Regions from separate parts of the Homo sapiens genome. Here all the other regions are reported to be linked to region 7. Evidence: microRNA targets listed by miRTarBase, many of them from high-throughput screens and not tested one by one. Region 7 holds a microRNA gene; each other region holds the end of a gene's coding sequence.
The links. Region 7 holds the annotated microRNA hsa-miR-627-3p (UCUUUUCUUUGAGACUCACU, at 2,893-2,912, shown strand). A microRNA usually pairs through its seed, bases 2 to 8, with sites in the 3' UTR of a target mRNA and lowers its output. Matches are read on the target gene's strand: a 7mer-m8 pairs with bases 2 to 8, a 7mer-A1 pairs with bases 2 to 7 and ends in A, and an 8mer does both.

Region 1 (4,067 bases), not on the chromosome of region 7:
ATCCTTTTTTAGAGTATTCTTCCACTGTATTTCTTTTTATTTCATAAGTTTTAAAATAGATTTAAAGGCTATAGGATTATTAAGTCAAGTAACATACATTGAAAATAAGTTTCAAAAAAGATCTTGTATGTGTGTGTTTTAAGGGCTTGGTACATAATTTAAAATTACATGTTTGTAAATTCACCTGCTCTTTTATAAATAACCCATAATTTTTAAAGTGTACTTAGTAACAAAATTCTTCATTTACTTTGTGTGATTATATTTCTACATAGGTGTCAAATTAGAAAGTTACTGTTTAGAAACATTTAATAGTGTTTATATTTTATTCTGTTATTGTTAAAGTGCTAAGGAAATTCCTGAAGATGTAGATATGGAAGAAGAAAAAGAAAGTGAAGATTCAGATGAAGAAAATGATTTTACCGAAAAAGTCCAGGATACAAGTAACACAGGTTTAGGAGAAGACATTATACATCAGTTGTCAAAATCTGAAGAAAAAGAACTGAGAAAATTTAGGAAAATAGACTACAGCTGGATAGCTGCCCTTTAAGCCTTGGAGATGGGGAGGATCCTTGGACTTTGTGTTTTTGATTGTATGTTGATATTCTAAAAACATCTATTTTAATGTTATTTCTGTTCTAAAAATAAGATAATAAATATTAACAAACTTTGCTTTTTTAAAAAACTGATAATATGAACATGTATTTGCATCATGCTTTACAGTTACTGGATCATTGATATACCACATCATCTCATTTTTTTATTTTGAGTCACACATCAGCCTTATAAAACAAGTAGGTATTTTCTTCACAGGTGATACAGCAGAACTGAGACTTGAACTGTACAGCATATGTCCCCTAAGCTGCAGTTTGGAGATACGAAAAGATTTGAAAGTTAAAAGGCTTTGTTGACATAATTGTTTTAACACAAATTCATTTGGTGGCCAAATGTGACCTGAGCTGGAGTGAGGTTTCTTTAGTCCTGATTTATTCCTCTTAGTGTATTTATTTCTCTCAGAGAAATTTAGAGACGAGTTGATTATGTGGTGTTCCACAAACCTCACTGAGGATATTATATAATAATATGGGCTGCCTAAAATTCTGAATTCAGATGATCTGACCCAAAGTCCAGTTGCTAGTAGAAAACGATCCAGATCCCCTGTTTTAGTTAAAGCAGTGAAGCTGCTACATCTTAACCACCTAGCATTTTGAGTTTTCCACTTCCCTAATGCACTTTTGTAAAATTTATATTTAGAAGTTAGCACAAAAACAAAGCGTTTGTAAGAGCACATCTCAATGAATGTTCACAAAAATTGCTGCAAATGGCTTTTTAGTTTGTGCTGTAGACCAAATGTTTGTTGTGCCCCCCTAAAATTCAAATGTTGGAATCTAATCCTCAATGTGGTATTTGGAGATGGGGCCTTTGGGAGATGATTAGGTCATGAGACTGGAGCCTTTGTGAATAGGATAAATGCTGTTACAAAAGAGACACTGGAGAGCTTCTTTGCCCCTTCTAACACGTGGGGATACAGCAAGAAGAAAACCATCTGTGAACTATGAAGTGGGGCCTCACCAAACAGCAAATCTGGTGCCTTTTTGTTAGACTTTCCGACTTCTGGAACTGAGACATAAGTTTCTGTTTATAAACCACCCGGTCTGTAGCATCCTAAACAGACTTAAAGTGTTTTTGAATCACTATTTATGTAAAATCTTAACTTTTTTTTTTTCAAGTCCCCAACCCCCACCTCGGACTCGTAAGTGGCTGGGACTACAGGCACTCACCACCACACCTGGCTATTTTTTAAATTTTTTGTAGAGATGTCTTGCTATGTTACCCAGGCTAGTCTCAAACTCTTTGGCCTCAAGTGATCCTCCGACCTTGGCTACATTTTTTAAAAATAAGCTACATTGAGATTTGAGATGTAACTCACAAACCATACAATTCATGCATTTAAAGAGGAAAATTTAGTGGGTTTTAATACGTTCAGTCTTGGACACCATCACCACAATCAATTTTAGAACATTTTCATCACCCCAAAACTAGCCATTTCCCTCAGCCTCCTTCACCTCACCAACAATGCAACAACTCATCCTATCTCTGTAAATTTGCCTATTCTGGACATTTCATGTAAATGGACTCATACAATATGTGATCTTTTGTAAGTGGCTGCTTTCATTCAGCATCCATGTTGTAGATATATCAGTACTTCATTCCTTTTTATTTTCACTTTTGTTAGTATACCTATGAGGGGAATTACTGGGTTATTTGGTAACTATGTTTAACCTTTTGAAGAACCACCAGATTTTACATATCAGCTGCAGCATTTTACATTATTTACATTATGGCACATAAATTGCTCCACAGTCATCCGTTAAATTGAGTCCCTTTCTACTGGTGGTGGGATGGAAGGTGGAAATTAAAAAAAAATTGAGATCCCTTTCAGGGGTGCTTTTGTTGTTTTAAGTCTATTTTTTTAAGGGTAGTTTTAGGTCAAGAAAATTGAAAGTACGGAGATTTCCCATATACCCTCTCCCCCAACGCATGCAATAGCCTACCCCATTATCAACATCTCTGGTGCACCAGAGTGGTACATTTGTTACACTTGAAGAACCTACCTCAACCCATCATAATCACCCAAAGTCTAATTTGAATTAGTGTTCAGTCTTGGTGTAATTCTGTGGGTTTATGCAACATATAATAATATGTATCCATCAGTATAGTATTACACGAGTATTTTCACTGCCATCAAAATGCAGCGTTAGTTTTTGAGGCCAGCCTTTGAGGTTTGTTCTGATCCCAGGAGGACCCATTTTAGCTGTCTCTTTCCTTGTTTTCTTTGTTTCTGGTAAACTAGCTAGTTTATGGTTTAGCTTGTTGTTCTAATGGAGCTACCAGTCTCCTCTTAATTGCTTACCACCCAAATCCCCATTGTTTTTGAGGCTTATGTCAGAACTGTATTCTTATGGACTGCCTCTTGCCCCTGGGCAAGATCTCTGAGCCACTGCTCCAGAACCATGAGTAGGCACAAAGGCCCAGTTCTCTCAAGAGTGACACCCCTGCTTTACAAATTGAGCAGAGGCAGTAGCCTACAAGCAAGCTGGGGCAGTGGCGACCAGAGCTCCAGTATTCTTAGCCTACCATCCTTGGAGTAGAGGCTCCACTCTGTGAGTAGGGTCTTGGTGAAGGAAGAGAGATTCCAACCTCTGGCCTGGAATTTAGCCTCTGCAACAGAGAGTTGGAGGCAATGAGAAATGCTCACAGCTGAGGGGAGAGGAAGCTCTGTCTTTTTGGCCACGGCTGCCCAGAATGGAGTTCCTATCATGCTGGCTGAGTTGAGGAAGGAGAGCTTTGTAACTTGAGTGTCACTGTTCTTGCCACCAAGATTTATTAGAATTTCTTGAATAAATGTTTCTTCATTTGCTGTATACCCTTAAAACAATTTCTGAAGACTTTTTTAATTTATTTTTGAGACAGAGTCTCCCTCTGTTGCCCAGGCTGGAATACAGTGGTGCAATCTCGGCCCACTGCCACCTCCGCCTCCCAGGTTCAAGCGATTCTTCTGCCTCAGCGTCCTGAGTATCTGGGACTACAGGCACCAGCCACCACACCTGGCTAATTATGTATTTTTAGTAGAGATGGGGTTTCACCATGTTGGCAAGGCTAGTGTCAAACTCTTGACCTCAAGTGATCCGCCCACCTGGGCCTCCCAAAGTGCTGGGATTACAGGCCTCAAGCCACTGCACCCAGCCAATTTCTGGAGACTTTAAATGGCTAGGTTTTTTAAAGTAACTTTTACTGATTACAGTTGTTCTGAGGAGCAGGTCCATGGATCTCAGACTGCCATTGAAGTAGACCTCTCAAGTCTCAGTTTACATTTTCTTCTTTGCCTTTTTTTTTTTTTCGTTTTTTTCTTATTTCTTTCTGTGCACAATTTGTTGAAAAAATCAAGTTTGCCCTGTGAGTTCGTCACTGATTTTGCAGATTGCTTTCATGGCTTTTAACATGACCCTCTGTATATTGGTAGTTGTATCTAGAGTAGCACTATGCAATAGAACTATAATGCAAGTCCT
Region 2 (4,067 bases), not on the chromosome of region 7:
TTACACTAAATTCAGATATCCTTCTGGCAGATCATCCTGGAAGTCTGAGCGCTCAAAGCCACCCCTAAAAGACTTGGGCCAGGAGGATGATGCTCTACCCTTGATTGAAGAGGTTCTAGCCAGTCAAGAGCAAGCAGCCAATGAGATACCCAGCCTGGAGGAGCCAGAACGGGAAGGGGCCACTGCTAACGTCAGTGAGGGTGAAAAAAAAACAGAGGAAAGTAGTCAAGAACCCCAGTCAACCTGTACCCCTGAGGAACGACGGCATAACCAACGGGAACGACTCAACCAGATCTTGCTCAATCTCCTTGAAAAAATCCCTGGAAAAAATGGTAAGAAGAATCAGGTTCATATCTAGGGTTTAAGATAAATGCGAAATGAGAGGGAATGGAAAAAAATTGTAATTACTGGTTCAGCATCCAAAGTATTCTAAGAAAATGGTATAGTTCTTTTATAGGCTTGCTTTTAGTTGTATCTTGGTAGTGAAACTGGAAGGTGAGATGATCTCCTCTAAAGAACCACCTTTTTCACGTAGGGTTGGAGGATGGGCTAAATTGCTTATAGGTCAGAAAAGGAATCATTGAGTTCGTGTGCTCTCCTTAGAGCTCAAATCTGGAATAAGGAGTAGGAGATTGGTATTTTGATGAGCCTCCTTGGTTCTGTTTTCAGCCATTGATGTGACCTACTTGCTGGAGGAAGGATCAGGCAGGAAACTGCGAAGGCGTACTTTGTTTATCCCAGAAAACAGCTTTCGAAAGTGACCCTCAAAGAATGAGAACCTCAAGCATCTGGGATCCAGTGGAGCTAATCAGTCCTGCCTCCTGCTCTCTGGGTATAGACAGGGGTGGGAAGGGTCCATCTGGGCAAGGGGAATGGGGCCATGTTGTTGACATTAGGTACTTAATAAGCCTTGGAGCTAGTGGAGAGGGAGAGGAAAGGGTTCTGTCCAAGACAGTTCAGGTTAATTAATTTTCTTCTCCATTGCTTCACCTTAAGGGTTAATAATGTAGAGAGGAGGGAGGACCACATTGATGACCAGAACCTACTGGTACTTTATAGCATTTGCCCCACCCCACAGCTTAGGTTTTTCTGTCATCCTCAGATCCCACAGGCATTGCGAAGAAGCTGCTTCCTATACCCAGGTATAACTCAAAATCCAAAGGGATAGGGCCAGGATCCCTATTCCTACCCCATCTATTCTCTGTTGGCTCCAAGAGCTACCCCAGAGACCTTAAACAGAAACAGTAGCTGAGGCTTCTTCCTAGATACCTGACTAGGGAAGTTTGTCTCTCCTTTCTTGCCCAACCAGGTCAAAGTAAAATGTGAGTTGACAGCTCAAAGCACTTGTAACTGCTGCCCCCTCCCTACCTCTACTCCCCAAAATGGAATCATGGGATAGGGAAGGCCCCCATGGGGTCAGAAGGGCACGGTAGTTCTTGCAATTATTTTTGTTTTACCCTTCATAACCTGTCAAACATATTTTTTTCTAATGAGAAAGCCAGGCCCCCGCCAGCACACATGCTGTTTTTAATGCGCTGTAGTTCTTGTGTGTCTGCTGTGCTGTGCAAATGGAGATTCAGTTCAAAATAAAATCATTTAAAAACCTACATAAAAAGAACTCTAAACCCACCCCTGCAACAAAAGTCACTACATAAACTGTTCAGCAGTATTCACCTATCAGAGTATTTGTTGTGAGTATAGATTATCAATTGAAAACACTACTCTTGTTTTCTTAATTGTACAGTTTTCAATGTCCCTTTCTTAAAGAGACAGTATATTTCTCTTCACCCCTAGCCCATCTTCCCTCACCCTCCTGAATGACATCAGGAGGTATATCCAGGGTGTCTCCTTCCTTCCTACTCTCTTGACCAGAAGTTAACAGACTATACTGTCTCTTTAAAAATAAAATTTAAAAAGCTTTGTTGTCTTTTCAGACATACATATGCATATATGTTTTAGATGTTCTTATAAGAGAAAAGATGGTTTTTAAATGTGCCAAGTTGTGTGTGTGTGTGTATATATATGTGTGTATGTGTGTGTATATATATATGTGTGTGTGTATATATATACACACACACACACACACCTGCTGTGTGATTGGTAAGCAATACAATAGTAAACATGTCCCCATTACTTTTTTCTAATATTGGACCAATGCTGTCCTAATTGTACATTTCCCCTTATGGTGACGATGCTCTGACTCGTTTAGGTAGACACATTGACCACCTTCCATTCCATTAAATATTTTTTCCTTTTTCCCCTTTCTGTGTCATTCTTGAGGAAAAAACAAAAGAGAGAGGGGATGCCAATGATCCCCTTGAGCAGAGAAAAAGCAAAATAAATATTTTATTAAAGAAAAAAGAGAATTAAGAAAATAGTTTGGAGTATTTTCTTACTGTAGAGAAGCACTGTACATTACTAAGAGACCTGGGTATAAGATACTCACATGTGGAGCTGGAAAAATCGCATGTCCAAGCCCGTTTGAGTGGTTTCTTTTGTTTTTCATTGCAGGGAGTGGGTGGGAGGGAGGTGGGACTAGGGGCACTTTGGGGGTCTCCTTTTAGTCAAAAGCGAGAAAATGACAAGAAAGAGATTAAAATTCAATGTTTCCTTTATAGTGTTAAACACTAAAATTTTAAAAAAGATGAAAAAGAAAAAAAAACTTTGTAAAATGCGAGAACAGAAGCAAAAGACACTACGCTCTGTCATTTTATCTTTCTTTTGTTGAAAGACTAAAAAAAAACTGAAATGTTTTTTAGACAATCAAATGTTAGGTAAGTGCAAAAACTTGTTTTTTCTTACTGGTGTAGAAATTAATGCCTTTTTTTATTTTTCAGTTATTTTATAATAACGAAATAAAAAGAACCCCCCAGCTGCCAGGCGGGTTTTGGTGTTTGAAATGCGGGGCAAAGCACTACATCACTGCAAATAGATACAGAGTTAGTCTGCATGTCTGTAGGCTGTGTGATTGCGGAAAATATAAATGCTGCTAATATATTTCCTTTTTACAAAAGCATATCTAAATAGATGATTGTTTTGATGTTAATCTTTGTAAATTATGTATTACCAATTTTAACATTGGATGTAATTGCATACAAAGCTTGCATCTCAATCCTTGAAAGTCTAGTATTAAATGGAAAAAACTTTTCCTAACTGTGGACTGATGAGCTTGCTATTTTTTCCTCCTTCTTATCCCCCATTTATCTTCCAAGACAACCTCATCCTGTTTCCAAGGGGATCTTTCTGAAACAACATCATAAACATGCTAGGCTGCACATGAGCACACTCACTGCCGTTGACTACTGGATAAAGTCATTTCTTCAGTACTAGGATCTTTCTAGTCTGGACTCAGCCTAATCAATCAGCACAGTAATAACACACACCAAATGTCCAGTTGCTTTTTTGTTTTTTGTGTTTGAGACAGAGTCTCCCTGTTACCCAAACTGGAGTGCAATGGCACAATCTCGGCTCACTGCAACCTCCACATCCCAGACTCAAATGATCCTTCTGCCTCAGCCTCCCAAATAGCTGGAACTACAGGCATGCACCACCATGCCTGGCCAATTCTTGCACTTTTTGTGCAGACGGAGTTTCACCGTGTTGCCTAACGTAGTCCAGCTGTTTTGTTGGGTTTTTTTTAATTTTTTTGTTTTTGAGACAAGGCATCACTGTGTTGCCCAGGCCAGAGTGCAGTGGCACATTATAGCTCACTGCAACCTCAACCTCCTGGGCTCAAGCAATCCTCCCAACTCAGCCTCCTGAGTTGCTAGGACTACAGGGGCGCACCACCACGCCTGGCTAATGTTTTTATTTTTTGTAGAGACAGGGATCTCCCTGTGTTGCCCAGGCTAGTCTCAAACTCCTGGGCTCAAGTGATCCACTCAACTCAGCCTCCCAAAGTTCTGGGACTACAGGCATGAGCCACCACGCCTGGCCCAGCTGTTTCTTTTCTTTTCTTTTTTTTTTTTTTCTTTTTTTTTTTTGAGATGGAGTCTCGCTCTCACCCAGGCAGGCGTGCAGTGGTGCAACCTCGTCTCACTGCAACCTCCGCCTCCCGGGTTCAAGGG
Region 3 (4,067 bases), not on the chromosome of region 7:
TTCAGGAGCCAAGGTCCAGGGGCCTCCACTGGTCAAAGGTGAAATAATTTGAGCATCAAATTATAACTCCAGCAGACTGATCAATACCAAGTATGTTTAAATCCATGAGTGCAGGCCAGGTGCAGTGGCCCACACCTGTAATCTCAATACTTTGCAAGGCCAAGGAAGGGGTAGCACCTTAGCCTGGCAGTTTGAGGCTGCAGTGAACTACAATTGCACCACTGCATTCCAGCCTGGGTGACAGAGCAAGACTCTGTCTCAAAAAAACCAATAAAAGCAAAAAGCTATGAATGCATTGATTTCTACAGACTTGACTGCCTTTACAGGAAGCAAAAAGTAACTAGCTCATTATTCTGAAAACAGGCAAATAAAGAGGAGGATCAAGCATTTTCTTGCCTTCCCTGTATGAACTATATCTAAGGGTAACCTAAGTTAATGAAGGGAAATTTCTTACAATATTCCAACTACTAAATGATGAAGCATTTACAGAACTAACGAAAGAAGCAGATCTAGGCTTCTAAAATCATATGAAGAGAAACAGGGCATGTCACAATCTATAATGTGTTCTTGCCAAAATGTGAAATATGAATCTGATTACACCACTAAACACTTCTACATTTTTAGATAATACAGAAGGCAGGGAAATATGTTAAATCACGCCATGGGTATGCAAACAGAAAATGCAGAATGATTAGCTGGGCATGGTGGCACATGCCTGTAATCCCAGCTACTTGGGAGGCTGAGGCAGGAGAATCGCTTGAACCCGGGACAGGGAGGTTGCGGTGAGCTGAGACTGTGCCACTGCACTCCAGCCTGGGCAACAGAGCGAGACTCCAGCTCAAAAAAAAAAAAAACAACAGAAAATGCAGAATGTAAAAAACTCTCCAGGATAAATGATCGAGTTTTTTAAAATGAATAAATCTCAAGAAGAAAAGGATAAGTACTACAGATTATAAGCCTTAAGAGACAAAGCAACAAATTATATTATATTGAAAAATTAGGTGGGTTCTTAAAATTCACTGGATATTTTGACATTAAGGAACTGTTTTGTTTTGAGACAGGGTCTTGCTCTGTCTCCCAGGCTGGAGTGCAATGGCACAATCAGGGCTCACTGCAACCTCAACCTCTTGGGGTCAAGTGATGCCCAGCCTCAGCCTCCTGAATAGCTGGGACCACAGGCATGCACCACCCATGCCCAGTTAATATTTGTTTGTAGATGAGGTCTCACTATGTTGCTCAGGCTGGTCTCGAACTCCTCTCAAGCAATCCCACCTTGGCCTCCCAAAGTGGTGGGATCACAGGTGTAAGCCACCACACCCAGCCGCCCTTACCTTTTACAGGTACACACTGAAATGGTTATAAACAACACTTGGGATACACTTCGAAACTTCAGTGGGGGAGGAAGACGGGGAGGAAGGAGTGGACAGAGATGAAACAAGATTGATTATGAGTTTATAATAAAGTCAAATGATAAATACATAAGGATTTATTTATATAGGTTTGAAATTATCTATTATAAAAAAATTTCTAAAGAATAGAAAAATACAGAAAACAAAATATTTCTTAACATTTGAATAGATATGAAAAATCAGACTACCACAATCCCATGGGAAAAACCCCCTACTTAGAGGCTTTTCTGAGACACTGTCCTAAGCTCTTGGCCCCACAGGAGATAGGGAAGAGGCCAGATAGGAAAGTCAGCAAGGCCCAGCTCCTTCTGAAGCTTAAGATATGCCAACTTGCTGAAACCCAGAGGAATGCTGGCTGTGTATGACAAAAGAGCATCTGTGATTCAGGTAATGACAAGCAGCCCCCCGAGGCCTCCCCAGTCCCCACCTGCCTTTGGAAAACCACCCTCTGGGGAAGGCCACACTCAGGCCAGAAGCCTCCCACTGAGTCTGCCTGGCTGTCAGCCCTGCCTAGCTGCTCTGATAATTACGGGGGAAAAAAAGCTGATTTTGCATGTGGACCTCAGTATTACAGAGGAGCAGCAGCAGCCCCGTGTGGACATCTCAGATACATTTACGACCCAGTCAGTGCAGCCTCGTGGGCACAGCTAATGAGCCAGGAAGACCAAGGAGCGTCATTTGCTAAGCCAAAATTAGACACCATGCTGCCTAACAAGAACAGGTGATAAAACCACGTTTCAAAGTGGGCTGAGTAATACAGCTTTGTGTTAGTCATTACCATTTACCTTATTTACAATGGAAAATGAAAAAAAAAAATCTCAGTAAAAGAATCTGGTATTAAGAGGCATCAGAAGACAAACCACATTTTGCAATTATAGGACACTATCAACAAAGGACAAACTCACTCACTCAGCCAGGGTTCAAAGGCACAGCACAATGACACAGCAGTCAGTCCACGCTAGTTATGCAGCTTCCAGAACTTTAAACAGAAATGAAACCCTTAAGTGATGGCACAATAAGGAAGCTTCAACAGTTTACAAATATTGCATCTTCTCATTTTTAAAGAAATGTATTTTTTTTTAATGCCTACAAATATCTTTATTTTTCCTGACTTGGCACTCATGCAAAACAGGTCGCTACCAGCTCATCATCCCCAGTGGGTGTCCAGGACCCCTAGTGCCTTGGATGACAAGGGTCTGGAGGGCAGAGACCATTTAGTAACAAGAGGTAGGTGACAAATGCATTTCAGGGCAAGATGCTGACAAAGCAATGAATACAGGCCCAGAGGATTTGCAGGAATATCCACGGGTTCTGAAGATCAGGTACATCCACGAGACATAAGCTCTACGAGGTCAACAGCTTCTCCCCCTATTTTATTCATGGATGTGTCTCAAGCACCCAGAAGAGTTCCTGACATGTTTGTTACAGGGCCTCAATAAATACTTGGGAAATGGGTCCAATGAGAATGGGGTGAAATTAATTTTATGAACTATAAAGTGCCATCAAATATAGGGCATTAATACTAGAGTTCATCTTTCAGACTCATTTTAATTATAACAGTTCTTTCTAGAGAACTGTTTTTTAAAATACTCTGATGTTTATTCAGTGATCAATAGCAAAATACTAACTTCCTAATAGTTGGTGTGTTGACAGTTGTTATAGTGCAAGGAATAATGGACGGGGAAGTTTTACAGATGAGGATAGAATGTTATAGCCTGACACAGATGAGGCTCCAAATAATGTAAAATTCACACAGTTGCCTGGGAGCAGATCCCAGCTGGGGAGGGAAGATCCAGCACGGGGCAGGAGGGCAGGAGTGGTCATGGGAAGATGTTCTCACGGGCACACAGCACAGATACCCTGAGAATGCCTCGGGTCATGGGCTGTCGCATGCATCCCCAACGCACAACCCCCAGAGGCATCACGTCTAGTCTCTCATTCACCACGGCATTCCCACGGCCAGGTGCTCAGAGGATGTTCAATAAATGTTTGTTCAATGGAAAAGAGAGGGGGTGGGGGAAGAGTCTGAGCTATGACCCTGCAGGCAAGACAGAGCCCTCAGGAAGATGAGGTCCCAGCTACCAACACGTGTCAAGGTTTTGCCTTTACTCCCAGCTTTGTTCGGCAGGGGGACACAGACAGTCCACTGAAGGAGAAAATCTCAGCCTGAACTGAACCGCAGGAGACTGCTTCCCTCAAACATTGGAAGAAAAATTGTTTAGCACCACTTGGGTAAGAGATGGAAGCAGCTATGCTCTCTGGAAGCTCTAAGTAAGCCAGGCCTTGCCTTTCCCGCGTTGGCGAATGGGTGGGAAGGCGATGGGACCAGTGCTTTCCTGCAGCCATCACCTTGCACCCCGCAAGGCCCTGCAGTGAGAAAGATGAATGATGGTGCTGCCTGCCACCTGCTATGCTCACTGCACCAGCGGCTCCTGGCGGTGCTGGGTCTTCTGGTGCCGGTTGAGGATGGACCTCTGGTTGAAGCTTCGCCCGCAGGCAGGACAGTGGTAGGGCTTCTCCCCTGTATGGATTCTCTGGTGTCGGACCAGCCGCTCCCCTTTGCTGAACCGCTTCCCGCACACCTGGCACCCATATGGCTTCTCGCCAGTGTGGGCACGCCGGTGCACCGCCAGATTGGCATTCCTGCTGAAGCTCTTG
Region 4 (4,067 bases), not on the chromosome of region 7:
ACTCTAACCATGCTAGCAAACTTTGTACCCCTCACTCTGACCCTGATATCTTTTCTGCTGTTAATCTGTTCTCTGTGTAAACATCTCAAGAAGATGCAGCTCCATGGCAAAGGATCTCAAGATCCCAGCACCAAGGTCCACATAAAAGCTTTGCAAACTGTGACCTCCTTTCTTCTGTTATGTGCCATTTACTTTCTGTCCATGATCATATCAGTTTGTAATTTTGGGAGGCTGGAAAAGCAACCTGTCTTCATGTTCTGCCAAGCTATTATATTCAGCTATCCTTCAACCCACCCATTCATCCTGATTTTGGGAAACAAGAAGCTAAAGCAGATTTTTCTTTCAGTTTTGCGGCATGTGAGGTACTGGGTGAAAGACAGAAGCCTTCGTCTCCATAGATTCACAAGAGGGGCATTGTGTGTCTTCTAGCAGAAAACAAACTGGTGGTGTATGAAACATTTTATATTTCTTACTGGGTTTTCTGTAATATATGTATATGAATAATTTCCACATGTATACCTAGAAAAGTCTTTTACCTAAAGTTAGTCTAGAAAAGTACATATATATAGATGTGTGTGTGTGTGTGTGTGTGTATGAAAAACTGAAGAACATTGACAATAACATGCTTTTTATTGTTTTTTCACAAAAACTGCCAAATTATAGAAAATATGACAAAAATTCCTCAATTATGAAGCCATGTTTATTTCATACATGTATTTTATATTTCATTTGTAGAATTTATATCTATTTATAATTATTAAGAACTAACAGCTTATCTCAGGAAAAATATTGCTCTTTTCTATTGTTATTTGAATGACACAAATATACCACAGTGTGCTTACAATCTGTTGTTTTAACCTATAACTTTTTGATAATAAGGTCGTTCAATTCTTAATCACTAATGAGGATGTATCTTCAGGGTTTTATTCCATTATGAATTCCTATTTTATGTTTAGTAAAAAGCAATCAGAATTATTGTTACAAAACAATGAACACAATAAAATTTGAGTGAGAAGTATACGTATAGTAAATTTCATGTATGTGTACCATAAACAGTACTGAGGAATATTAGATTTAATACAAGTATGTGAATAGCTTAGAAAAAAATCTCTGCTATAAGAGGGATGAAAAATCATGATCATGATCTTGATTGCTATTATCAGCTTCCATATGCAGTTAGAACAGTCATTTCTTCCAGCTTTTCAATTAAAGAAAAACTTTTTTTGAAATTGAGCTCAGATGTAAATTATTTTAGTATTTTTTCTAAAGCACTTCTAAGCCCCTGAATTGCTAATTATATCCTTATCTTCCATTTTTAAAATTCTTTCTAAACTTCAGATAAGAGAACTCCAGTCTTCCGTTTTCTAAAAAAAAATCTGTCAATGTGAAAATAGTATAAAAATTATGGAAAATAATTCAGTGAAACTTTTTTTAAGTGTTAAAATAGTATCTATGAAATCTATGTATTAATTATGGGATTTGTCCTAGTGTAATTTTGTTGTCAATGATTAAATGGAATTGTCTTGACATATTCATTAATGGGAAGTTCTATTATAAGAAGGAAATGTACAGTCTTGTTTACAGCTAAATTCTACATGACTGTATTAATTCTTGGTGTTATGAAATTTTAACAATGTTGTTCAGACCTTAAGATAAATCATCCCCACACCTGATTCATGTATTTTTTAGAATCATGTATCTTCCTCAGTACAATGTAAGAACCATAAAAGAAGAGATCGTGTCTGTCAGGCTTTCTGTTGACTCCCAGGACCTAGAACCCAGCACAAGGAATAGATGGTCAAAAATGATATTTTAATGAACAAATAAATGGGTGGATAAAATGGGTAAGCTGATGTGGTAAACCAATGAAAGGGAAACTCATCACAAAATCTGCAGTTGCATGAGTTCCCCTGTTCTGGTCTCAGGTTAAGATTACAGGCTTATCCAAGCAGAATCCTTCCTCAGAGGAAAAGTTTGGCTATTCCACAATTTTAGGGGAAATATCACAATAATATAGTCTTGATGCAGCTGTATCAGGTGTCTGAATTGGCGACAAGGTAGAACATCAAAATTAGATGCCACTATTACAATATTTTAAAAAAGCATATAAAAGACTTTGGTCTATTTGCGTATGTATTTTTTTCTATTGTGAATTATATATTTGTATTATGATATTTTCTAGTTGATTATCATATAAAAATGGCATTTCATTTCAAAAAATTGAGTTAGTAACCAGCTACTTTACTAAAATGTTTTTAACGTAATACCTGATATTAAAGTGATGACATTTATATGGAAGGCCAATTCAAGACAAAAATGGCAGGGACATGTGGAAATTGAGACAAGAACCGATGTGAAACAATGTGTGGTGATGTCTGGTATGACTGCTGGCAGCCACTTCACAGTGAGGTGAGAGAGACAGCATGGTGGTCATCAGATGCATGCACTTGACTCCCAGAACTTTTCCAGAAGGGCTACAAAGGGAAACCACAGCTGGCATTAGTCCATGGAAGAGAGAGAGAGGAGGGAGAATGTATCTGCTCAGCTGTCGTTAGTCTTCTGTTTCCCCTTGGCCAGGGTTTCCCTGAGTTAGAACTACCATCTCTGTTGTTCTGTCTTACATCATCCAGTCCCTTGGTGGTGGTCATGAAAGTCAGACCTCATGCCCACAGTGTGGTGATGCATTCAAGTCCCAAATGGAAGGATGATCTGGATCAGGCAAGGTGCTGACCAGGGGAACAGGAGATAGTGAAGGGAATCTGAGAAAGCACATGTTTGTGTCCAATACCACCACTCCTTGTGCCACTGAGACGTGCTCATACCCTCCAGTCATGGCTGGCTTTATGAGCATATGACTTGCACAGTTGTACAGGGTTTTGTGCTTATAGGGGCTTGTGCTTAGAGTGACTCTATGCTTGGATTAATGTTCTGCACTTGCTGTTTGGCTTTTCAGACAGAGTATACTTCAGCATTCCCTCTGCTGAAGAGGGAATGGTCTTACACTGGTCTTACACTGATTCCATAGGGATTTGCTCTCCCCTCTCCTACAGGCTTGTCAGAGACATGCACAGAGTCCTATAATGCCCACTATGCATGCCTCTAGCAGCTTTGAATTCCGCTGGATCATCTGGCACAGTGGCCAGAGCAGCCTGGACCAGAGCCTATATCTTCTGTAGAGCCCTCTTTAGTTCTGGGCTCCATTTGAGACCAGTAGCCTTTAGAAACATCGTTCGTGAGTCAGAGCAATATTCTCAAATGTGGAATATGTTGTCTCCAAAATCCCAGTAGGCCCCCAAAACATAGTGTCTCTTTTGTAGTGATAGGAAATATATAGAGAGAGCAAAATGCCGTTTACTGTAAAAAAGATTGTCTCAGCATGTGGACTAGGGACACTAAAAACCTTAAAACATCACCTATGTTGTCGGTCCCTGAATCTTCTCTGATTTATCTATTTTCTTCTGGTATTTTACTTCTGCTCAATGTTATAATATTTTACTATACTGAAGAAACTTGCCATTTCCTGATTATTGTACCAACTAATATATTATTATTGGTATTATTTTGAGACACGGTCTCTTTCTGTCCCTGAGGCTGGAATGCAGTGGCAGGATCACAGCTCATTGCAGCCTCAACCTTCTGGGCACAAGTGATTCTCCCACTTCGGCATTGCTGGCAGCTGGGACTGCAGGGGCACAACACCATGCCTGGCTAATTTTGGTATTTTTTGTAGGGCTGGGATGTCACCGTGTTACCCAGGCTGGTCTCAAACTCCTGGGCTCAAGTGATCTGCCTGTGTCGGCCTCCTAAAGTGTTGGGATTACAGTCATATGCCACAGGGCCCGGTCTGTAATATTATCAATACATTAAACTGGCAGGATGTTTTAAAAAATGTAAATTAAACTGAGAACAGAAGTGACATAGCCCTGACATACAACAGTGAAGCAGTGCTATTATTCTTACAAGGCAAATTGTTTTGATTTTCCCTCATAATGGGTGTAGATTAAGAACCATTCACCAAATCACTAGCCCCACAAAAAGTACCAGAAGCTCTGCTCTGCTCAGTGAAG
Region 5 (4,067 bases), not on the chromosome of region 7:
GATGAGTTGAAAGGGTACTGCCAAAACGCGGCCCTGCCCAGGACACACAGCAGAGGTCTGGAGTGGGGACAGTGCGGCCAGCATGTGTGGGGAAGGAAGCAGGCTGACGGAGGCAAAGCAGATTCCGAAGAACAAAAGCAGCTTTAGTTTGCCTGGGCAACAGGCTCAACTTCTGTCTCCACTTCAGTTATCAGGAGACCAGAAGCCGATTCTAGGGACCAGAAGAGAATGTAGGGTCACATCACCAAGATTTAATTTCATACCAACCCCGCAACATGAATGTGACCTCTGGACACCGGGAGAGTAACACTCAAGGTTATGACATATGAGTCAATAACCCATTTCTTCAAAGAAAAACTTGCCCACCTGTACCAGAGGTATATGCTATGAAACAACACACAATTATAAAGCATATGCATGACCAAAACAATGCTTAGATGTCCTTTAAAAATATTTTCAATGTTCTCTCACTAGGTAGCCTAAGAAAATCTTCTCAGGGAAGGAAATGGAAACATCCAAATGCACAGAAGGCACTCGGCTCCAGACTGAAAGCTGGCCTGCTCATGGGTTCCTTTTTTTTTTTTTTTTTTTTTTTTTTTGAGACAGTCCCACTTTGTCGCCCAGGCTGTAGTGCAGTGGCATTCTCGGCTCACTGCAACCTCCACCTCCCAGGTTCAAGCGAGTCTCCTGCCTCAGCCTCCCGAGTAGCTGGGATTACAGGCACGTGCTATCATGCCCGGCTAATTTTTGTATTTTGAGTAGAGACGGGGTTTCGCCATGTTGGCCAGGCTGGTCTCAAACTCCCGACCTCATGCGATGCGCCCATCTCAGCCTCACAGTGCTGGGATTACAGGCGTGAGCCACTGCGCCTGGCCACGGTCACGGATTTTTTAAAACTCTAAGGTCATTAGCTTGACATCTATAAAATCTCCTCCATGACATGAAGCCTTAAACCTAGGGACAGAAACACACTGAGACACAGAAACACCTTCTGTGCTTCAATACACAGAGCATTCTCTGGAAATCCCTACGACACAGGCTTAAAGGCCAGTGCTGTGCCTGAAAGACATTTTGAACAGGCAAGGAGTGTAAGCTAATACACTACTGTTACAACATGGACAAATACTTGTAAGATGTTAAATGAACAAAGGACCAGAATACAAAACTGAATACGCAGCATGAGGACAACCAAAGTTAAACCCACACACTCACACACCCCGTCTACAGAGAGACTAGAAAGGAACACGCCAATGCCAAGAGTGGTTATGTTACAGAAGGTTGGGACTCGGGGTGATTTTGTTGTTTTGACTTTCATTTTTCCAAATCTTTAATGAGCATGTGCCACTCTTTCATAATGAAACAAGCAAACAATAAGTACTTACTACTTACTGAATGAATAGTTGCCACTTAAACAATTATCCTAAAATTATACCAAGGAAACTAGGTTTGGGCCCAGCAAATGACTCAAATGTAATATTCACTCGAGGTAAGGACAGTGGGGTGGTGTGGGCTGGCACAGCAGAAAATTTCTAGACCAGGGGAATCCACGGTCCTGAATTGAGTCTTGGCTCTGTGTGACCCTGGGTATTGTTTTTTGCAGCCTGACACATGAATGCTTGGACTAGAATAATGATTCTTAATCCTTAGTGGGTTATTGACCCCTTTGTCTGTGTCTGAGGGTTCTGGGAACCCTCTCTCCAGGAAAAAAAATACACACACACACACACACACACACACATGCTCACAGAGCTTTTAGAAGTAACTCTAGGAGGTACATGGACTCTCTGGAGGTCCACGGACCAGGTTAAGAACACTGGTCAGAGGCTGGGAGTAGTGGCTCACGGCTGTAATCCCAGCACTTTGGGAGGCCAAGGTGGGCGGATCACCCGAGATCATGAGTTCGAGATTAGCCTGGCCAACATGGTGAAATCCCATCTCTACCAAAAACACAAAATTAGCCAGGCGTGGTGGCGCGTGCCTGTAATCCCAGCTACTTGGGAGGCTGAGGCAGGAGAATCGCTTGAACCCGGGAGGCGGGGGTTGCAGTGAGCTAAGATCGCACCACGGCACTCCAGCCTAGACAACAAGAGTAAAACTCCACCTCATAACAAACAATCAATCAAAAAGCCACTGGTCAGTATGCTGCCTTCTCCAGCTCCAGCTCCACAGCCAAGTTAAGGCACAGCAGTTCCGCTTCCTGTGTCTCTGCCGAGGGCCTGATCTAGCTGCTGCCAAGACATGCCAAGGTCACCAGCTTCCCGTCCTGACCAACAGCCACCTCTCAGAAGGCTGGCTTAACTACTCAGCCCCAGTCTTCTTAGCAGATGGCAAGGAGCTCTGGCCAAGATTTTAGTCTAAACAGAACCCTAGGCTGCTGATGCAACATCAAGCACAGCAAAAGGTCACCCCTTTCCGGGGGGACGGCTACTGAACCCTGGCATTCCAATTAGAAACGTGTTTCAAGGACACAGTTACTCCGGCCTCAGAACTCTCCAATGTGAGTAGGTAAGTACAGGGGGGATTACAAGTGAAGCCACAAAAAAACAGTATTTGATCAGCAACAAAATATCTGAGACTTTCTTAAGCTACCTACGGCACATACTATTTTGTTCTATTTCTCATTTCTATCATCAGCCGCTCACTCAGCTAACCCCAGGATTCAAATAGGACCGCTGGTTTTTAATTTGTGAATATTCTTATTTAAAAACAAAACAAGCTCTACTTCAGATGTCCAAACAAAAATCACACAGTAGTAAAACTGCTACAAAATGGTACTGTCAACAGGCTGGAGGTGGGGGTATGGGTGCCTTCTGTGTGCCTCAGTCACACCGGGGAGTTTTGCTTACCTAATTCTGCTTCTGAAATAAGCAACATCAAAACAGCCAGGTGTCAGGAATGTGCCATTTACCGGGTGGTCCCCAGACTCTGCTGCTCCTTCCCAGCATTACTAAGGTTTCTCTCCCAGATTCCCCACCACCCACCATACAGCTCCCTTTGTGGGATTGATGCAAGGTAGGCCCCATCTTGAAGAGTGACCTAGAACAGGGTACCAGGGCCTCCAGCTGGAGGCAGAGAGAGCCACCCCTCCTCAAGAAACACCCTTGGGTGACAGAGACAGCATGATATTCTAGGCAGTGCTGCCCAGCCCAGACTCCACAAACAACCCTTCTGACCTTGCAGAGGCAGTCCAGAGCTGAGGGGCCAGCTTGAGCCAGCTTGCAATCCCTCGGGAGTTTACTGAGGGCTTTCTGTTGTTACTGATGACCACAATTCCTCCTTGTAAATGACCACACTACGACTCCCTGTAACTCAAAAAGCGGGAAGGAGGCGGGGGGAGGTGGGGGACAGATTCATAGGTTTTTGTTTTCGAAGATAATTCCACATCGTGCTACTAATGGGCCGCTGGTAGGATTCCTCTTGCCACCCCACAGGCCACTCCAAAGCAAGTTACTATCAACACGTTTCCAACTGTGCAGGAGGTTTCTAGTTAACTGCAACAAGCCTGAAAATTTGGTTACGTATGTAGGTGCAAAGCTGGTTCATCAGATCCCTGTTCTGGCCCTCAACCCAGTGCATCTCCACTAAGGCATCGTCCACCTCCTTCTTAACGTTTATCAAACACTTAAACAGGTACTGTCCGGCCACTCCTGGGAGACGTTTCCCCCTTTCAGCCACTGGGCTGCCGAACTGCTCAGAAGCCTCTTGGTCCTGGGCTCCGTTGCTAGAGCCTTGACAACTTTCCAAAACCTCCACCCCTCCCTTTTCCTCACTCCTTTCATCCTCCGTGGGTTCCGGGTTTTCCTCCTGGGACAGGGACTCCTGGCTCGGGCACGGGCCCTCCACAGCGGCAGCCTCGCCTTCCCGCAGAGCAGGCCCACAGGGGGTCCTCTCCTGGGGGCCCCTGGCCAGTTCTTGGCTATTGCCAGACTCTTTGGGGGTGGGCTTTTTCTCTTCCAAGGCCTGAATGACGTCCTCAGGAGCTCGGGGAACTTCTCTCAGCTGTCTCACACGCTCTCTTTTCTTTCTCCTTAAATGAATCCAGGAGTTTTCTATGGCCGTTAGGAAAA
Region 6 (4,067 bases), not on the chromosome of region 7:
CATCCATTGAATTTCAAATGCTTGTCTTGAAAACACTTTTATCTTTGTATTTTAAACAAAATCAGTCAGGAAAAGTTGGAGAGCAGGGAAAGGATATAGCTGTCAGTGCTGTTCAGCATCTGTAGGGCTCCTGACAAGGTCTGCATGCATAGATCCTGACAAGGTCTGCATGCGTAGATCCTGGGAGTTCTAATGTCTCTCTCATTTCACATTTGTAAACACGACATCGGCTTGTATTTTGTCCTATCAAGTAGAATTTTCAAGTGAATGTTCAGTTTTTACTGATTGACAAGGCTGCAGAAATGCTTGGGCAGCTCAGGGATAAATGTATTATTAGCACTGTGTTAGTTATCAAGTTGGAGCTGTGGGGGTGTTGTGTTTGTATTCATTCCATTTTGTGTTCTTTCCCTTCAGATTAAAACACGTAAAGGTCTCATTTCAATATTTGAGCAAGGTAAGACAGACACTTCAGTGGATTTGTCCAGCCACCCTGCTTTGGGGAGGGGGTGGGACTTTTCTAATCGGCTGCCCTCGGTAGCGGACCCTGCATCAGTGCTCCTCGCCCTCCTGGGCCTTCCCCTCCCCGGGGGCCCTGCCCACACTCCTGCCCCTGCATGTCTGCGCTGCCCGGGGAAGCCCAGCCTTGCCTTTCTTCTGCCCGTGCACTCGGGGAGGAATCCGACACCAACACCTGCCATCCCGGAAAATGTCTTTGTCGCCTGCCCTTTTGTGTGTGGGGCTGCAGGGAGCCAGCGGGCGCTGGGGCCGCCCCCTTTTTTGTTGCCCAGGCCTGAAGGAGCAGGGTCTTGAGATGGGCCGATAAGACACGGCACGTGCTGGGCCGGCCTTTGACCGCCAGCCTTAATGGAGGCCTCTGAGACCTCCATGCGGGGAGGGCAGGTTGTGGCGGGGGCTGCTGAATGGAACAGCTGGGGAAGGAAAAGCGGACAAAAGCTGCGGGAGCGCAGAGGGTGGAGACCTAGGAATGGGCTGCGGTCTAGGACCCAGAGGATAGGCTGGCCATGGCAGGTGTGACCTCCCCAGCCTGCCTTTCTGTCCTGGGTCTGGGGTCCAGGCCCTGCCCAGAGCGCTCTGATGGATGGCAGCCGCCTTGGCAAGGCTGTCTGAAAACCCTGTCCCGTGTGGCCTGGGCTGCACCACCTCCCAGGCTCACAGGCGGAAGGCGAGCAGTTGGTAATGACAAGGATCACGGCAATGCCATTCACAGGAGAAAGCAAGTGAGCGAGCTGCCGTTCCTGAGCCTGTCGCCCACAGTGGAATGCAAGGCACAGACACCAGTCACTTTGTCTCAGTAAATATGGAAGTGGGATGTTAGGGTCCAGATTTGTTGGTTTATCCAAACCTTCACCCTCCTCTGCTAGGCAGGGCTGTTGGACCTGCAGGCCAGAGGAGCAGCCAGCATCACAGCCAGCCGACCCTCCAGCCAGCTGCCCTTTCTCTTCCCCTCACCCAAGGCTTAAGCCCAGTCCTGATATTGTCCCAAACTGGGCTCACTCGTGTCAGCCCCAACAGGTGACACGAGCCTCAGAGCCCAGGTGCTCATGTCAAGATGGGGCAGAGAAGGGTTGTACAGTCCCCTCCCAGCAGGGCACCTTGCTGCAAAACTTCGCATTTGCCGAGACCCCCGTCTCCATGCATGTCCTCCTGCTCCTGCCGCCAAAGTGGGGAGGTGAGGTTCGAGTGTCCTGTGAATAAATCCTTGGCTTCCATCACCGGGAGGAGGCAGTGCGAGTGGAGCAAAGCTGCGAGTGGACGTGTCATATCAGGAAGGCGGCCGTACCTTGTGTCCCGCCTACCTGTCCTGCAGCTGCCACCTCCCCACCACGGGGTGCTGTGGCACGAGGGCCCAGTGCAGATGAGAATGTCCCAGCAGAAAGCTGGGGACCAGAGGCCTGTGTAGGGCACTGTGGCACTGGCTGCAGCCCAGCTGCAGGGGTGGCTTTGCCCTTTGCCCCTGGCCATGGGATCCCTGCTTTCAGGTGCACAGGCCCCCTTCTCTGCAGAGCTTCCTGCTGTTCTCCAGGCTCACTCAGCGGGACAAAGCTGGCATTCCTCTGTCCATCTGCAGGAACTCGAGGTGCACCCCTCTTTCCCTCTTTATCCTCCCTGGGTGAGTGGGTGGGGCAGAGGAACTAAAATGTTTTCCTTCGAATCCAGAATTAGCAAAGGTTCGCTCTTTCTCTTTGGATCTCACTTTATATCTTTCATTTACTTGCCTTTTTTTTTTTTTTTTTTTTTGCTTATTTATTAGAATCAATCTGATTACCATAGTGGGCTGGGCTGTTGGAATATTGTCTGGGATTAAATCAAGTCTGTTCTCCCATGCTGCCCCACACCCTGGATTAAATGCCAGTGCCCACCACCAGCTGCGAGGGGATGGAGAGATGCCTTGTAACAATCTAGCTTCTCTTGTGGATGATGGTCTAGCTGTGCTGCCTTTGTCAGAAGCAGCCTGTTTTTGTGTTCTGAGGTTTTTCATGTGTGGTGTTTTTTTTTTGAGACTGGGTCTCACTTTGTCACCTAAGCTGGAGTGCAGTGAAGCCATCACTGCAGCCTTGACCTCCCAGGCTCAAAATCCTCTCACCTCAGCCTCCCAAGTAGCTGGGACTACAGGTGCGCACCACCATGCCTGGATAAGTTTTGCAATGTTTTTGTAGAGACGGGGTTTCACTGTGTTTCCCAGGCTGGTCTGGAACTCCTGGGCTGAAGCGATCCGCCCACCGCGCCCGGCTGCAGCCTGTTTTAAAGATGAGAATAGTGAGCCTTCTCTGTATGCCCGACCTGACTGAGCCTAGAAGAAGGGAGGCAACCATGAAGCCCCTGGACTCTGAAAGTACTGAATTTCAGGACACCCTGAGCCAGGCTGCCTCCATAGGTCCAAGCACGTTTGCAAGTATTGATTTTGGAAACTCCTCCTAGAAACAATAAGGGAAGGTCAGAGAATGAAAAAAGATGCGTCTGTGAATAAAATAACTGACTTAAATTAATTTCAAATGCCAATAATAATAATAATTTCAAAGGCCAAAGCCCTGCAAGTGAATCACGCAGGGAGGAAGATGTGGAAACTCTGCTTCTGAGGTTGGTTCCCAGCAGAGGTCATGCAGGAAACTTGGGGCATAATACAACAGGGTTTAAAAATACACTACGAGGGGAAGGGTGATGAAATGATCCTCTCGCTCGCAGAACGGTGCTAGGGGAGACCCAGCTCCACCCGCAACAGTGGCTTGGTGTTGCAGCAGGCATTCTTGTATTCCTCTGAGCACACCGACAGCAGCCCTGGGGAAGCGGGGGGTGCAGATGTGCAGGTTTTAATTTTATTCCTTTTCCCTCCAGTGATGAACAGCTGTATGCTCATCTGGACTCATTCAGACAAGCAATTTAGGACTGACCTCTAGTCTTAGACCCTTTGGGGAATAATCGAGTTGTAACTCATTGTGTAGAATATCGATATGTAAACACGTGGAGATTCCAGGAACACCGCCAGGGATCTGCAGAGCGGCCTCTGAAGTTTCACGGGCTTTTCCATTGACTCCAGCCACTGCTTCTTCAGTGGCTCTTCCTCCCTTTCACTGTGACCAGATGCCTTTTCTCTTCATTCTTTACTTATGAATTGGACAGTAAGTCTGAATTAATTTCACAAGATTCATAGCTTCTTTTATGCTGCAGAAAAGCCCAGGGCAAAGAATAAGAAGAAAGACATTCATGTGTTTATTCATTCAACAAACATCTTTGCCGGCATAGCGTGGGAGGAGGTCACCAGACCCTTCTCCTGGGAGTTTCCCTCCCTTCTGAGTGCCACAGATCCTCCCTGAAATGTGTGGCCGTAGAGCCGCCGTTGCCTCCATGACTTAGCAGTTCTCTGCTTCCTTTGCAGGGGCCCTGGCCTCCAGTCTGAGTGCTGACCTCGAAGAGCCCCTGAGTGAGGAGGAGACAGAACACCCTCTCCTGCCTCTGCCCCGAGCCACTAAACCCAGAATCTCCAGGAAATTTCGTTGCTGTACTAGTGCCCTCAGCAGGTCTTCCCATTAGTGGACTTCTGAAGCCCA
Region 7 (4,067 bases):
TCAACTTTAATATTGCTAAATTGCTTGATATCATGATATCTATAAAGTTCTAAATATAGTATCTTTTACAAAACAAATATTGCAAAATGAATTCTTTTATTTTTTCATGTTCTGCTGCAGCATAAATCTCCAGCCTTCATTAGAGCTGCTGTTATTTCTGATTTCAACATTTTTTTTGTGTGTGACCTGCCTTTCCTTTAAGACCCCAAATCAAAGAAAATAGAATCACTCTGTTTTTCTGGATGACTAAGAACATCATCCTGGAGAAATACTATTGATCCTTTGGATAAGGAATGTAGGTGCTGACCTGTTTTTATAAATATAACTACTGCCATTCAGACAACCTTTGGCTGACACCCATTTTTTTTGACATGGGTGCCTTAGTAAGTACATCACAGCATGTGGTTGGGAATCAAGACAAATTGGGGTTGGGATCCCAACTCTGCTGCTTGCCACATGTGTGACTCTGGAAAAGTTATATATTCCCTAGGCCTCAACTTCCTCATCTATAAAATGGGGATTTGAAAAAAGGACTTACTTCAAGGGATAGTTGTGAGGATTAGTGAAATAACAGATGCGTTTAGCATTTCCTGGAACACAATACATGCTCAATAAAAGTTATCTATTTGTACCATTATCCAAGATTTTATTTTACAGAGGTCAAGAATCAAGAGAGTTTATGAAAGGAATGAGTGACCTTTATGTTATCAAAAAGCTAAGGAAGTATCTGTACATGCTTACCTTCCTTGAATGATGTAATATGGGTCTGTCAGGGTAATTATTTAAACTCTTTCTGAGCCTCTTTTTACCTAGACCAGTGCCTCCCAAAATGTGGTCCTTGAACCACCAGCATCAGCATCATCTGGGAAGTTGTTAGAAATGAAAATTCCTGGGCCTACTTTTAAACCTACTAAATCAGATGCTCCGGGGTAGAGCCTAGCATTCTGTATTTTAACAAACTCTCAAATAATTGTGATACACTAAAGTTTAAGAACCACTAGCCTAGACCATCTTTTAAAATGTACAATTTGGCTGGGCACAGTCGCTCACCCCTGTAATCCCAACACTTTGGGAAGCTGAAGGGGCATTGCTTGCGGTCAAGAGTTGGAGACCAGATTGGGCAATATTGTGAGCCCTCATCTCTATAAACATTTTTTAAAAAATAGCTGAACGTGGTGGTGCATGCCTGTATTTCTCGCCACTCAGGAGGCTGAGGTGGGAGGATCACTTGAGCTAGGGAGGTGGAGGCTGCAATGAGCCATGATCACACCACTGCTCTCTAGCCTGGGCAACAGAGTAGAACCCTATCTTAAAAAAATAAAAGTTAAAAAAAAGTGTACAATTAAATGGTTTTTAGTACATTCACAGAGTTATGCAACTATCAGCACAATAAATTTTAGAACATATTCATCACTTTCAGAAGAAACTCAGTACCCATTAGTATTTACTTTCTATTTTCCCCCAAGCCCACCAGCCCTGGGCAACCGCTAATCTTTCTACCTCTGTGGATTTGCCTACTCTGGACATTTCATATAAATGGAATCACGTGGCCTTTTGTCTGGCTTCCTTCAGTTAGCATCATGTTTTTAGGTTCATCTGTGTTGTAGCATATATCCATACTTCCTTTCTTTTCATTGTTAGCTAATATTCCGTTATATAGACATGCCACATTTTGTTTATCCGTTCATCAGTTGGTGGACATTTGGTTTGTTTCCATCTTTTAGCTATTACAGATAATACTGCTGTGAACATTTGTGTACAAGTTTTTGTGTAGAATATGTTTTCATTTCTGTTGGGTGTGTAACCAGGAGTGGAATTGCTGGGTCCCAGGGTAACTCTGTTTAGCCTTTTGAGGAGCTGCTAGACTTTTCCAAAGTGGCTCTCCCATTTTACATTCCTGCCAGCAGTGTATGAGGATTCTAATTTCTTTATATTCTCATCAACACTTGTTATTAAATATTTTCTACTAGACTATCTTTTGAGATAATGAATTCTGTAAGCTTATTATGTTACGTCATTTATTTTCCTGAAAGTAAAAGCATTTAAAGGATGCCTCTTAGCTATTATTGCTGAGGTTGGATACCTGGTTTCACATTTGTACTTCCATTTTGTGATTTTATAAACTTTCATCATATTCTTTTTAGCAGAATTTAAAAATATATATCTGAAGATATATATCTTAATAAAAGTATATATAACAAAAAATAAAAATCATAATAATTTAATCTTAAAAATACAAAGCCCTTCTATCTTTTTTATTAGTTTAACATTAAAACAATTGAGCCAGGACATTTTTATCCTCTGATATGTCTAGCCTAGTAATTATTCAATAAATGTGTTTTTAAATGGTTGATTTTCAAACATGAGTATAAACATTTCTTAGCTTTGCAAAACACCTCCTATCAAAAGCAACTCATTTTCTTGACACATTGATTTCTGATTACAAGCCCCAGCTAAAAAAATAGGGTTATACTCAAGCTGATTGACCTTTCTCAAAGCTGGTTTTTTTTTGTTTTTGTTTTTGTTTTGTTTTGTTTTTCCAGAGGAATGGCTTCTTGTGGGAACCAAACAAGGACATCTTCTTCTCTATAGGATTCGGAAGGACGTTGGTAAGTGCACATTGCTCATGCAAAAAAATAAGTTTTAATAGTCAGCTAGTATACAACTGTGAAATCAGTTATTCCTGGACCATTAAAAGAGAGATTGAAGGTTAGAGGGAGCACGGTGGGAAAATGGGGAGAAGACTTGAGAATGCCTAGGGTTTTTCTCCTCCAAATTGTATTGCCCTACCTGCATTTGGGAGGTGAGGATGAATTGCTGGTTTACTTATTACTGAATTACTTATTACTGGTAGTGAGTCTCTAAGAAAAGAGGAGGTGGTTGTTTTCCTCCTCTTTTCTTTGAGACTCACTACCAATAATAAGAAATACTACTAATGGGCATAAGCTTCCTGTATATATGGTGTGGTGGTAGGAAAAAAAATTAGGCAACATCGATTTAAAATATCTTGTTGGCTTATGAGGGGTAGAACAAGAAGAGAGGACCAGGGTTTGCCTTCATGTGCACTTCCCCCTGGCTGCGTGACCGTGAGCAAGTTCTTTCCAACATCAGTTTTCTATAAACTCTCTGCCCCACAAAGTTGTTGGGGTGGATGCAATAATAGGCTCGAAGAAACTGTGAAAACTAAAGTTCTAATCAAATGTGACTGTCAGTAATGTAGAGTAATAACTAAAGTATTTGAAATGTATTCTGTTAAAGAGTGTTTTTTATTGGGGCAGAAAGTACCTCACTGCCCTTCCTTGTTTTCGTTTCTGTGCTCTCTTTATGGAGAATAGATGTGTTTAGGTATTATGCCCTGGAGCCACTCTACAGAAATCTGCAGTTAATTTCATACCCTTCAATATAATATATATTTCTCTGGTAAATAGCTTAAGAGATAGCTTAAGATAAATAGAGCTCTCTTGTGGAACCTGGAGCAAGGGTAACACTGGGGGAAAAAGCACCTTACTAGTGCACTCGGGAAAGAGAAGATATCCTGGTCAGTTTCTGCAGCAGGGTAAGAAAAGAAACCAGAGAACAAAATAGATAATTTATTTCATTTCTAAGTTTTTCAACTGTCCTCTAAATCAGGGTCAGCAAACTTGTTCTGAAAAGGTCCAAAGAATAAATATTTTAGGCTTTGCAGTGTTGTTACTACTTAACTCTGCCTTTGTAACATGAAAGCAGCTGTAGGCAATATGTAATGAATAGGTATGGCTATGTTCCAATAAAACTTTATTTACAAAAACATGCAAAGGCCTCAGTTAGGCCCTGGAGCAGTACATTGTTGATCTTTGTTTTAATGTTTTAAATTTTTAATTCTCATGGCCTGTGAAGTGGCTCATGCCTATAATCCCAGCACTTTGGGAGACTGAAGTAGGAGGAATGATTGAGGCCAGGAGTTCGAGGCCAGCCTGGGCAACATGGCAACACCCTGTCTACAAAAAATTAGCTGGATGTGGTGGCACGTGCTTATAATTCCAGCTGCTCTGGAGGCTGAGGTGAGAGGATCGCTTGAGCCCAGGAGG

Region 1: miRTarBase lists WDR75 as a target of hsa-miR-627-3p. The part of its 3' UTR that is shown has no 7-base or 8-base seed match.
Region 2: the mRNA of ASH1L is a reported target of hsa-miR-627-3p. Seed matches in the 3' UTR shown: 8mer at 1,973-1,980.
Region 3: miRTarBase lists ZSCAN25 as a target of hsa-miR-627-3p. Seed matches in the 3' UTR shown: 7mer-m8 at 1,632-1,638.
Region 4: the mRNA of TAS2R30 is a reported target of hsa-miR-627-3p. Seed matches in the 3' UTR shown: 7mer-m8 at 522-528 and 7mer-m8 at 550-556.
Region 5: the mRNA of METTL16 is a reported target of hsa-miR-627-3p. The part of its 3' UTR that is shown has no 7-base or 8-base seed match.
Region 6: the mRNA of RALGAPA2 is a reported target of hsa-miR-627-3p. The part of its 3' UTR that is shown has no 7-base or 8-base seed match.

What each region holds. Positions count from the first base shown.
Region 1 is chr2:189,474,871-189,478,937 of GRCh38, forward strand. WDR75 (WD repeat domain 75) reads left to right here. Exons shown (of 21, transcript NM_032168.3): 21 at 343-682. The coding sequence ends at 547. Among named protein-coding and RNA genes, the nearest start is that of WDR75, 35 kb to the left of the region's middle.
Region 2 is chr1:155,334,354-155,338,420 of GRCh38, reverse strand. ASH1L (ASH1 like histone lysine methyltransferase) reads left to right here. Exons shown (of 28, transcript NM_018489.3): 27 at 31-332; 28 at 670-3,153. The coding sequence ends at 761. Among named protein-coding and RNA genes, the nearest start is that of MIR555, 10 kb to the left of the region's middle.
Region 3 is chr7:99,629,777-99,633,843 of GRCh38, reverse strand. ZSCAN25 (zinc finger and SCAN domain containing 25) reads right to left here. Exons shown (of 8, transcript NM_145115.3): 8 at 1,436-4,067. The coding sequence ends at 3,824. Among named protein-coding and RNA genes, the nearest start is that of ZSCAN25, 15 kb to the right of the region's middle. RefSeq lists an enhancer at 3,361-4,007.
Region 4 is chr12:11,129,647-11,133,713 of GRCh38, reverse strand. It overlaps TAS2R30 (taste 2 receptor member 30), which reads left to right. Exons shown (of 1, transcript NM_001097643.2): 1 at 1-756. The coding sequence ends at 429. All of the region lies in intron 1 of PRH1-TAS2R14 (PRH1-TAS2R14 readthrough), which reads left to right. The region is part of intron 1 of PRH1-PRR4 (PRH1-PRR4 readthrough); the gene reads left to right. It also overlaps a transcript of PRH1 not described here. Among named protein-coding and RNA genes, the nearest start is that of TAS2R30, 3.0 kb to the left of the region's middle.
Region 5 is chr17:2,416,487-2,420,553 of GRCh38, forward strand. It overlaps METTL16 (methyltransferase 16, RNA N6-adenosine), which reads right to left. Exons shown (of 10, transcript NM_024086.4): 10 at 1-4,067. The coding sequence ends at 3,484. Among named protein-coding and RNA genes, the nearest start is that of MNT, 17 kb to the left of the region's middle.
Region 6 is chr20:20,393,082-20,397,148 of GRCh38, reverse strand. It overlaps RALGAPA2 (Ral GTPase activating protein catalytic subunit alpha 2), which reads left to right. Exons shown (of 40, transcript NM_020343.4): 39 at 415-454; 40 at 3,896-4,067. The coding sequence ends at 419. Among named protein-coding and RNA genes, the nearest start is that of INSM1, 27 kb to the right of the region's middle. RefSeq lists a silencer at 610-904 and enhancers at 1,277-1,820, 1,821-2,365, 3,160-4,067.
Region 7 is chr15:42,198,438-42,202,504 of GRCh38, reverse strand. It overlaps MIR627 (microRNA 627), which reads left to right and starts at 2,839; the gene lies at 2,839-2,935. It overlaps VPS39 (VPS39 subunit of HOPS complex), which reads left to right. Exons shown (of 25, transcript NM_015289.5): 2 at 2,544-2,609.